Homo sapiens: one gene and its partners. The protein of the gene in region 3 purifies or fractionates together with the protein of the main gene of each other region. This does not show direct contact. Each region holds a gene or a part of one and is shown on either strand. Other genes may lie near its edges.

Region 1 (3,732 bases), on a different chromosome or scaffold from region 3:
GTATCCCCTATGGATTAGGCATGGACTAGTATATTCTAAAAACATGTTAGTATGTCACAAAATGTTAAAATATACATACATTTTGAAATGTTTTAAGAATACAGTTGGAATGCACAGTAAAAAGGCAGCAAATATTTTCTCCCAATGAATTCATAGCAAACAAGAACACATGTAAGAAAAACTCATCAAGGTCGATATTTTTTTCCCTCTCTTAACAGTATAATATTCATGAAAACTGAATTTCTTCCAGGTCTTTTAAAATTATCCTTATTGTATTAGAAATGGTCCAGTCAACTTTAAGGAATGTTCATTTTAAAACAGCATTAAAAGTACCAAAATACACAAATACTTTGGGCAAGACTTAAATGCATACTTGATAACAGCAGGCTGGGTGTAACGGCTCATGCCTGTAATCACAGCCCTTTGGGCGGCCAAGGTAGAAGGATGACTTGAACCCAAGAGCTCATGACCAGCTTAGGCAACATACAGAGACCCTGTTTTTTTTTTTTTTTTTTTTTGAGATGAAGTCTTGCTGCTCTTTTGCCAGGCTGGAGTGCAGTGGCGCGATCTTGGATCACTGCAACCTCCACCTCCCGGGTTCAAGCAATTCTCCTGCCTCAGCCTCCTAAGTAGCTGGGACTATAGGCGTGTGTCACCACGTCCAGCTAATTTTTCTATTTTCAGTAGAGACTGGGTTTCACCATATTGGCCAGGATGGTCTCGCCCTCTTGACCTTATGATCCACCTGCCTTGGCCTCCCAAAGTGTTGGGATTATAGGCGTGAGCCACTGCATCCAGCAAGAGACCCTCTTAAAAAAAAAAAAGGTAAAAACAAGGAATTCATCCTTTACCAATGAGTGGTGAATGGATCCTGCAAGTCAGCAGAAGATTTCCATGCTTTCTCTCACTCTACAGATGTTCCTTGACTTACAATGGGGTTACATCTAGATAAACTTATTACCAATTGCTGCCTAGCAGTGCAAGAGAAGTACAGTTTCTACTCAACATCTATTGCTTTCACACCATCGTAAAGTTGAAAAAAATCATAAAGCTGAACCATAGGAAGTTGGGGACCATGTGTACGTGTAGTTTTAGTAGTTTTTCTTAGTACCAGTATCTCCTTAACATAACCACAACCAAAGAATGGGGGAGGCAAAACTTTAATGTAGGGGTCTAAATTCTGCTGATAGGAAGCAACCTTTTCTCTCTCAGGGGTTCACCTTTGTGGAGGTACAAAGTAAGAACTATCAGAACATGAGATTCTGATCTAATCCGCTAAGGGTCCTTGGCCCAAATCTGGCTTGCAGACAGGTCTGACTTACACAGGGTTTAAAAATAGTTTTTTTTTTTTTTGGCTGGGCTTGGTGGCTAATGCCTCTAATCCCACCACTTTGGGAGGTCATGGCGGGTGGATCACTTGAGGTCAGGAGTTCGAGACCAACCTGGCCAACACGGTGAAACTCTTGTCTCTACTAAAAATACAAAAAAAATTAGCCGGAAATTAGCCATGTGGGGTGGCACATAACTGTAATCCCAGCTACTCAGGAGGCTGAGGCATAAGAATCGCTTGAACACAGGAGGCAGACGTTGCAGTGAGGTGAGATGGTGTCATTGTACTCCAGCCTGGGAGACAGAGTGAGACTGTCTCAAAAAAAAAAAAAAATTGTTTTTTTGATACATGTTCTCGCTCTCACTCAGGTTGGAATACAGTGGCACAATCATATCTCACTTTAGCCTTGACCTCCTGGGCTCAAGTTATCCTCCCACCTCAGCCTTCCCAAGGTGCTGGGACTACAGACATGCGCCACATGCCCAGCTAATATTTAAAATTTTTAGTAGAGATGGGATCTCACCATGTTGGCCAGGCTGGTCTTGAACTCTTAGGCTCAAGTGATCCTCCTACCTTGGCATCCCAAAGTGTTTGGATTACAGCATAAGCCACTATGCCTGGCTGGGCTTAAAAATTTTTTAATTTAGTTACACATTTAAAAATCAGAGGGGCCGGGTGCAGTGGCTCACGCCTGTAATCTCAGCACTTTGGGAGGCCGAGGCGGACGGATCACGAGGTCAGGAAATCGAGACCATCCTGCCCAACATGGTGAAACCTTGTCTCTACTAAAAATACAAAAATTAGCCGGGCGTGGTGGTGTGTGCCTGTAGCCCCAGCTACTCGGGAGGCTGAGGCAGGAAAATCGCTTGAACCCAGGAGGTGGAGGCTGCAGTGAGCTGAGATTGCGCCGCTGCACTCCAGCCTGGGTGACAGAGGGAGACTCCATCTCAAAAAACACAAACGCAAAAACAAAAACAGAGGGATTTCTATATAAATCTGGCTTTCCAGAGTCTTTTGAAAACCTGAAAGAGGGCTGGGCGCGGTGGCTCACGCCTGTAATTCTAGCACTTTGGGAGGCCGAGGTGGGCGGATCACAAGGTCAGGAGATCGAGACCATCCTGGCTAACATGGTGAAACCCCGTCTCTACTAAAAATACAAAAAAATTAGCTGGGCATGGTGTCAGGCACCTGTAGTCCCAGCTACTCAGGAGGCTGAGGCAGAAGGATGGCATGAACCTGGGAGGTGGAGCTTGCAGTAAGCCGAGATCGCGCCACTGCACTCCAGCCTGGGTGACAGAGCAAGACTCTGTCTCAAAAAAAAAAAAAAAAAAAAAAGAAAAGAAAACCTGAAAGATATGGTAACAGCTGAGTAGGAATGGCATTCACTCTTCAGCTGACCATATCCCCTTCCTGGCTCTCATTTTAATTTCTCATCTGGCTTCTGTAGCCATCTGAGTTCGCAAACCCTACTTACAAGACCTAAGGAGGAAAAGCACAACGTCAGCTGGTCCGGGTAGCCCCAGTGGCCAAACCCTGGTCCAGCTCTGGGTGTGAGCTAGGCCCCCTCACCTGGAAAGTCAGTGACAGCAGGGTCCGCCAGCCGCCCATAGCGTGCCATTAGTTTGAGCTTGGTCTCCTGTTTTCTGTGTTTCTTGCCCACATAATGTTGTTGAGCCATGACAGGGTCGTTGAAAGTTGCATGGCAGAGGCTGCAGAACTTGTCTGGGTCTATCATCTCTCTATTCTGGTGCAAGGCTAAGGTGGAGGCCACAAGGAAAGGATTTGTAAGGCGTTTTGACAGAGCTGCAGTGAGAGAGTTCAAACAGAAACAATGAAAAAACCCAGAAGGTGTCAGGCTTTTGAGTATGCTGAATAGAAAGGGCTGTGACACCAGTTAATCCTACTGCAGATGTGGCACTGCCTGTGTGAGTCACACAGGTGAATGCATTCTCTAATTGGGAAACCTGGGAAGATTTGAGGGAGCCCAAAGACTGGCTATTTCATTCAGCGGCTTTAACTACTTTAAGCCCACAAATCCTGGTGGTTCTCATATTCTTAGGAGGCCCTGAGCTTCTCCTGTCAGGCTGCCAAGTTACAATAGACTAGAGATGCACACTTGCACTCTTGCAGGGATACCTCAGTACTTCCCAGAACTTCACAGCAAGTGGGACACGAAGTTTGGGAGTTTTATTCTCATCCTTAAAGTAATACAGTTGCAGAGCTGGGAACAAATGCACAGATACAGAAATTGAGGCTTGAGTTCCTGGAGCTCATACAAGGTCATTCAGAAAAGGTAACCATACTAGGGATGCCTTTTAGGCTACATTGCATATTATAGGCTGAGTAGAGAGAAAAGAGGACCATTAACATTTAGTTATGCGTTTTGCTCACATCTGTAATCC
Region 2 (3,732 bases), on a different chromosome or scaffold from region 3:
AATATAACTAAGAGTGTAAAATGATATTTTTACATCAAGAATCAAGTCACTTGAAAATTCAAATTAAAAAGTTGATTATATACAATGATTCCAAGTAAAATAATATTAAAGAAAGAATAAAACTATTGAAACACATTCTAATGCACTCCTCCAACTCTTTTCATTTGCTCTACAACTACTGAGGCACACACTGGTGTCATCAGAATATAAAGATGAATACAGGATATAAAGATGAACAAAACTTTGAACTATTCTAAAGATATATCCAGTTGGGTAGAGATAACAGATATAAGAAAGAATCCTATATATGATTAATGCTGCACCAGCAGCAAGCTCTCCATGCATTGACAGCCCAGGAAATGAGTGATTCTGTATGAGACATGATGACAAAAGGGAGGTGTCATGTCAGGCAGGTCTTCCTAGAGCTGGCCCTTGAAGGATAAACTGCCTTTTGATTAGTCAGGCAGGAATCCCTTTTTAATGAGTTAAATAAATGATTCTGGCTTCTTCCACTTGGATAGCAAGTAATAACAAAAGACTATTTACCTAATTAGATCTAAGCTTGCCACCATTTATTTTAGCTAACACTGATAAACTGATAAGCACTTTACTACCTGCCACTGCTTTTTTTGGGGGGATCAGGGTCTTGCTCTGTCGTCCAGGCTGAGGTGCAGTGGTGCAACCTTGGTTCACTGCAGCCTGAAGCTCCTGGGCTCAAGCAATCCTCTCACCTCAGCCTCCCAAGTAGCTGGGACCACAGGCATGCGCTGCCACACCTAGCTTTCCTTTTTTTTTTGGTATTTTATGTAGAGACTGGGTTTTGTCATGTTGCTCAGGCCGGTCTCGAACTCGTAAGCTCAAGCGATCTGCCTGCTTTGGCCTCCCAATGTGCTAGGATTACAGGCATGAGCCTCCACACCTGGCCTGTGCCACTGCTTTAAACTAGTTACATGCATCATTCATACTGTTGTGGTGGTAGGTACTATTATTATTCCCACTTGGAAGAATGGTGAAATTGAGGCACAGAATGTGTCAGGAACTTACCAAAGGTCATACAGTTAGTGCAAGTGGCAGAGTCAAGATTTAAAAAAACCCAGCAGCCAGACACTGAGCACATGCTTTTAATGTGGCAGTACAGTTTAACACAAATAATATCTATCTCAATGAACTGCTATAAGGGTTGAATGAGATAAGGTAAATACTTATAAGTTAATGTAAGACAGCATTACTTCTTGCTTTTTTTTTTTTTTTTTTTTGAGATGGAATTTCGCTCTTGTTGTCCAGGCTGGAGTGCAATGGTGGGATCTTGGCTCACTGCCACCTGCACCTCCCAAGTCCAAGTGATTCTCCTGCCTCAGCCTCCCAAGTAGCTGGGATTACAGGCATGAGCCACCACACCCGGCTAATTTTGTATTTTTAGCAGAGGAGGGGGTTTCAGCACATTGGTCAGGCTGGTTTCGAACTCCCGACCTCAAGCGACCCACCCACCTTGGCCTCCCGAAGTGCTGGGATAACAGGCGTGAGCCACCACGCCCGGCCACTTCTTGCTCTTTCATTTGTTAGGCTTTTGAGCGCTTTTCTATGGTTCAGGATGCCTCAATGAGCATGAAATTCCACGGTTTCATTTTTAAGGAAAGAAAGGAAACTGGCATTTATTGAGGACTTTCAATATGCCACAATCACTTTAAAGGTATTACTCTAATAACTGCCTTAACTATCTTGAAGGATTTTTACTTGTAAGACTCAAAGTAAATTATCATGCAGTATACAAAGGGGAGGTACTATTCAATTAATTCAATACTTAAAACCCAATTTCCATTACATTAAAAAAGGTATGTGGGAATAGAAGGTATAAAAATTAAAGGACTCCACCTCCATGGGAACCTGTCCTTTGTCATAATTAAGAATACCCTCTCCCATTCACTCATTCATGTTCATTCAGTAACATCTATGTGGGCCTACTATGAGAGTGGTATCTTGCTACTGGAATGTACGATCCCCATCTTAAAAGAGCTCAATAGTCTAGTTTCATAAAACATCTTAAGTCCTATAAAGAAATTCATATGCTATCTCAGCATCGTTTCTTGGACATGTGCAGAAATGCAGAGAATTTAGTTGGTACACACACCAACTTCCCATTACAAATTAAGTAGGCCAACTCACAAAGTCTTAGGTTGGTCCAATAAAGTGGCCACTAGCCACATGTGACTTAACGAGTCCTTTAAATGTGGCTAGTGTGACTGAGGAACTGTATTTTCATTTAATTTTAATTAACTTAAATTCTAAAAATTTATTCTTATCCATTACTGGAAAACTTGTAAGTAGGTCTGGAGCAACTTGAGTATATGAATCTACTTTTTCAAATGTAAATTTTATCATATCTAAATACAGATCAAGTATTTCCAATGAAAATTTAGCACCTGAATTGACACGTGCTTTCAGTGTAAAATATATACTGGATTTCAAACAATTTATATGTAAAATTTCTCAATTTTTAAAAATATTACTAGAAAAGTTAAAAGTATATTAAAATATTACTAGAAAAGTTAAAAGTATATACATAGCTTGTATTTTCTTTCCATTTGACAACACTGGCCTAAAGATGAAATATTCTTATAACTAGAGTATTCCTCTAAAGATTTTTTTTTTTTGAGACAGGGTCTTGCTTTGTTGCCCAGGCTGGAGTGCAGTGGCGTGATCTCGGTTCACCACAACCTCCGCCTCCCAGGTTCAAGCAATTCTCCCGCCTCAACCTCTCAAGTAGCTGGGACTACATGCACCTGCCACCATGCCTGGCTAATTTTGTATTTTTAGTAGAGATGGGGTTTCTCCATGTTGGTCAGGCTGCAGATTCTTACAATGATTTGAGAATTCCTCAAAACTCCTGAGCTTCAACAACTGACTTCAAAGATTGCTCCAGGGCAAGTTGGAGAAGCCTTACCTGTATTTGCCTGTGCTGTGCTTTAGTGTTAGTTCTATTACTACAGGTTAAGTACCTTCCGGTACCAAGCATTTGATTTCAGATATTTTCAAATTTTGGAATATTTGCATATACATAATGAGATAGCTTGGGAATAGGACCCAAGTCCAAACACAAAATTCATTTGTGTTTCATATACACTTTATACCCATAGCCTGAAAATTATTTTATATGATATTTTAAATAATTCTATGTGTGAAAGTTTTGTCTGCATTTTGACTTGTCGCATGAGGTGAGATGTAGAATTTTCCATATGTTGGTGTTCAAAAAGTTTGGGATTTTAGAGAATTTTGGATTTTTAGATTAGGGATGCTCCACCTGTACATGAAAATAGCAACAGAAAAGTTGTGAAACCATTTTAAAATAAACACTAATTACATTTACAAGCTATTTTCTGAAAGCAAGCCAAGATAGAAACAAGGGTAGGAAATTCATCCTTGCTTTCCTGTGAGAAGGCAAACAGAAATAACAACCTATGAAGTAATGTAAAAATGTTCAAAGGAGTAAACAATCTTCCTTTGATGTGATCCAAAAGCACAAACACAATGACAAATGACCTTCCAGGTGTAGAATGAACTTAAGTTTCTATCTTTCAAGCACTCATCTATGCCGTGCTGCAACAGACGTTCTCAGTCTTTTCACACCTTCAATTAGAGATTACTTTGTTAATTTTAAAACTTTAATTGCATTTTTTACTGAAATCAATTGCTTTTAAAAAATCTACGTATGATGTGAGGGCGATCTGGCTGCAA
Region 3 (3,500 bases):
AAAGACCAGTGGTTTTCCATTGTCTTTAAAATAAAATCCAAATTCCTCCCGTAGGTTATGTGAGATCTAGCCCCTCCGTCATCCTACTTCCTTCATTCCTTAATTTGCAGAAGCCACCCTGGGTGCCTCTGAGGTTTCCCAGTACACTGAGTTTTTTCCCACCTTCGGGTCTTTGCACTTGATCTTTCCTTACCTGGAAAATCTTACAGATGAGTGCTAATTGATGCAGAGGACTTAGAGTCCTCCCCCATGTTGCTTTGTGAAAGTATTTAATGGAGAGAATCATCAACTCAGAACACCTGCCGTAGGCATCTGTGAGTTTTGTAGCAGTGCTCTGCTTCTGAGTATCAGTGAGAGGAATGTTCTAACTCTCTGTGTTTAATCTCCACAGGGTTTAGGGGCTCAGGAGCAAGGAGCCACAGATCATATTAAAGTTCAAGTGAAAAATAACCACCTGGGACTCGGAGCTACCATCAATAATGAAGTGAGCAGCAGTGTGTGCCTCCTGGGTGTCTTTGCATAATTGGCTTCAGTCTTGTAAATCTGAAAGTTGATTGGTTCATCTGCTTCTGACCATTGGTGCAGCACTTCTTTTTATTCACGTTTCCTCTTGAACACTGACGCTTTGAATGCATGGCACTATAACTCAGAGTCAGTGGCCTACCGCGCTTTTTATTTTTAGTATCATTGTTCCCTTTTGGAAAGGATCTAAACTGAAAAGTTTTGTTTCTAAGTTTTTGCAGCCAACATAATCTGGTAGGGAATCTGGGAAATTACTTTAGGTAAATTGAATTACTTTGGTTAGTTCCGTATCTCTGAGTAGTGGATTGGCGGAGCTAAAATTTTTAGCCACTAAAGAAAGAGTTTATATAAAGTTGATTTCAAATGTAGTTGTTGAGGGATAGATAACACAGATATACTTATTTTCTTAGAAGAAGCATTGCCCAGTAAACCTATTTCATATTCCTTTACCTTAAGCATTCTTAAAAATTGCTAAGAATGTGAGTAAGGCAGATTCGTACACTGAAACCCTGCTTCCCACTGGTTTGGGAGATCTTCATTCTCTTATAAAAGCCAGGTTCATTTTTTTATAATAAACTTATTAGGTAACCACCTTACAAATGGGAACTCATCGATTCAGGGGACTTAAGGTTCTTCCTCCTCCCCTTCCTCAGAGTTTTGTAAAATTGGAGTTGATGCAAGTCATTAGAAGATTTTAATTCTACCAAGCAAAGAAGAGCATTTTTTTGTCCCGCATGGTTCTTGTCCTTTCAACTATGGAATTTCCCCTAGTGAGAAAAAAATAGTCATTTCATTATGTTTTACTTTAACATTTAGCACACAGGTTGCCTGTTGATTATTTACTATATATTGACTTGATCGATAAGTCATTCACATTTGAAATCAGGCCTTAAGCTTCCAGGAAGCCCCTTTTTAATATTGACCTGGATAAAGAGCATTTTAACTTTATATTATTTCTTGAATCCACTTAAATTTATCAAATAGTATTTTGATGGAACATTTAAAATTTCTTAATTAACCACTGGATTTCCTTGATTCCAAAATGTATCATCTCAGTCAGTGTAAGTAAACTACAGGCTTACCTCTCGTTCATTTCTTTGATATTTTCAGGACAACTGGATTGCCCATCAGGATGATTTTAACCAGCTTCTGGCCGAACTGAACACTTGCCATGGGCAGGAAACCACAGGTAGGGAAATCAGATGACATAAGTTCTCAATGCAAATATGTTTATCTACTTTTTGTTTTTTGCTTTTATTATTTTTAGTTGACACATAATTATACATATTTATTGAGTATAGTGTGATATGTCAATACCTGTGCACAATTTGTAATGTACACATGTGTTATGTTCATCAACGTAATTAGCATATATATCACTTCAGACATTTATTATTTGTGTTGGGAGCATTTAAAATCTGTTCTTCTAGCTATTTGAAAATATAAAATAAAATATTATTTATTATAGTCACCCTACAGTGCTATAGAACACTAGAGCTTTTTCCTCTTATGTAGTGGGACTTTTATATCCATTAGCCAATCTTTAGCTGTTCCTACATAGCTGTTTTCCTTACGCAGCTCTAATAACCACTATTCTGCTGTCTACTTTTATGAGCTCAACTCTTTTAGCTTTTCCATATGAACGAGAATATGTGATATTTATCTGTGCCTGGCTTATTTCACTTAATGTCCTCCAAACTCAACCATGTTGCCTCAAATGAAAAACTCTCATTCTTTCGTAAGGGTAAATAGTATTCCGTGGTGTGTATGCACCACATGTTTCCCAGTTCATGTGTTGGTGGACACTTAGGTTGATTCCATATCTTGGCTGTTGTGAATAGTGCTGCAGTGAACGTGGGTTTGCAGGTACCTCTGCAACATGCTGATTTCCTTTCCTTTGGGTAATGCCTGGGAGTGGATTGCTGGATCATATAGTAGTTCTATTTTTAACTTTTTGAGGAGCTGCCGTACTGTTTTCTGTAGTGGCTACATCAACAGTGCATAAGAGTTCCAATTTCTCCATATCCTAACCAGTAATTATCTTTTATAATTTTGATAATAGCCATCCTAATGGGTGTGAGATGATGTCTCATTGTGATTTGGATTTCCATTTCCCTAATGACTGATGTTAAGCATCTTTTCATCGCTTATTGGCCATTTTTATATCTTCTTTGAAGAAGTGTCTAAGTACTTTGCCCATTTTTTAATTGGATTTTGTTGTAATCTGCAAGCATTTTTATAAACATTCTTGTTTATGAACAGTCTATTCCTTGTGTGTCATGTGTGAATAATCAAAAGATATTTGGTAGATTGAAAGAATTTTGTGGAGTGAAATAATGAATTAGACTTGAGTTCAGCAAACATTTATTGAGCTGTGTGCTGGGTACTAGTTTAGGTGTGAGGATCTGCAGAGGTATAAGACACAGTCCTGCTTGGAGGTAGCTAGCAGAATATGCTGGTAATTACCTGGTAAAATCACAGCACACATCTAACCATAGGAAGGTTTATTGCAGTGACGTGTGTGGAAGTGAGCCCAACAGTGTGAAGGGAAAGGTGCTTTGTTGGTATTTTTTCTAACCAGATTGGACTTTTTGTTGGAATGTATAACTTGGACAGTTTTCCTTATCCATAGGATCATGATTTTGAAATAACCTAACAGTTCTGTGTGTGGTCCTAATATGAAGGGCAATAATTTATTAGCAGAAGAAAAAGATAAGGAAAATGTTTTCTGAAAATACTGAATGACTCATATTAGGAAATGCAGGATCTATGAAGTAGTAAAGTTCAAGGACACTATTCCTTACTAATTATACACAGAAAACATCTTGATATTTACGATCACAGTTGAACTCAGTAGAAACACAGATAAGAATGTAAGCTTGGCTGGGCACGGTGTAATACCAGCACTTTGGGAGGCTGAGGCGGGCGGATCACCTGAGGTCGGGAGTTTGAGACCAGCCTGACCAACATGGAGAAAC

Evidence for each region.
Region 1: the proteins of PINX1 (region 3) and ZNF346 purify together in Homo sapiens (co-immunoprecipitation; one large-scale study listed by IntAct). This does not show direct contact.
Region 2: the proteins of PINX1 (region 3) and DSTN purify together in Homo sapiens (co-immunoprecipitation; one large-scale study listed by IntAct). This does not show direct contact.

What each region holds. Positions count from the first base shown.
Region 1 is NC_000005.10:177,050,104-177,053,835, reverse strand, and holds part of ZNF346 (zinc finger protein 346), read right to left. Parts: intron 3,134-3,732; coding exon of another isoform or gene 3,086-3,133; coding exon 2,900-3,085; intron 1-2,899.
Region 2 is NC_000020.11:17,576,486-17,580,217, reverse strand, and holds part of DSTN (destrin), read right to left. Parts: intron 1-3,732. UniProt on the Homo sapiens protein: Actin-depolymerizing protein. Severs actin filaments (F-actin) and binds to actin monomers (G-actin). Acts in a pH-independent manner.
Region 3 is NC_000008.11:10,829,876-10,833,375, reverse strand, and holds part of PINX1 (PIN2/TERF1-interacting telomerase inhibitor 1), read left to right. Parts: intron 1-391; coding exon 392-484; intron 485-1,632; coding exon 1,633-1,711; intron 1,712-3,500. UniProt on the Homo sapiens protein: Microtubule-binding protein essential for faithful chromosome segregation. Mediates TRF1 and TERT accumulation in nucleolus and enhances TRF1 binding to telomeres. Inhibits telomerase activity. May inhibit cell proliferation and act as tumor suppressor.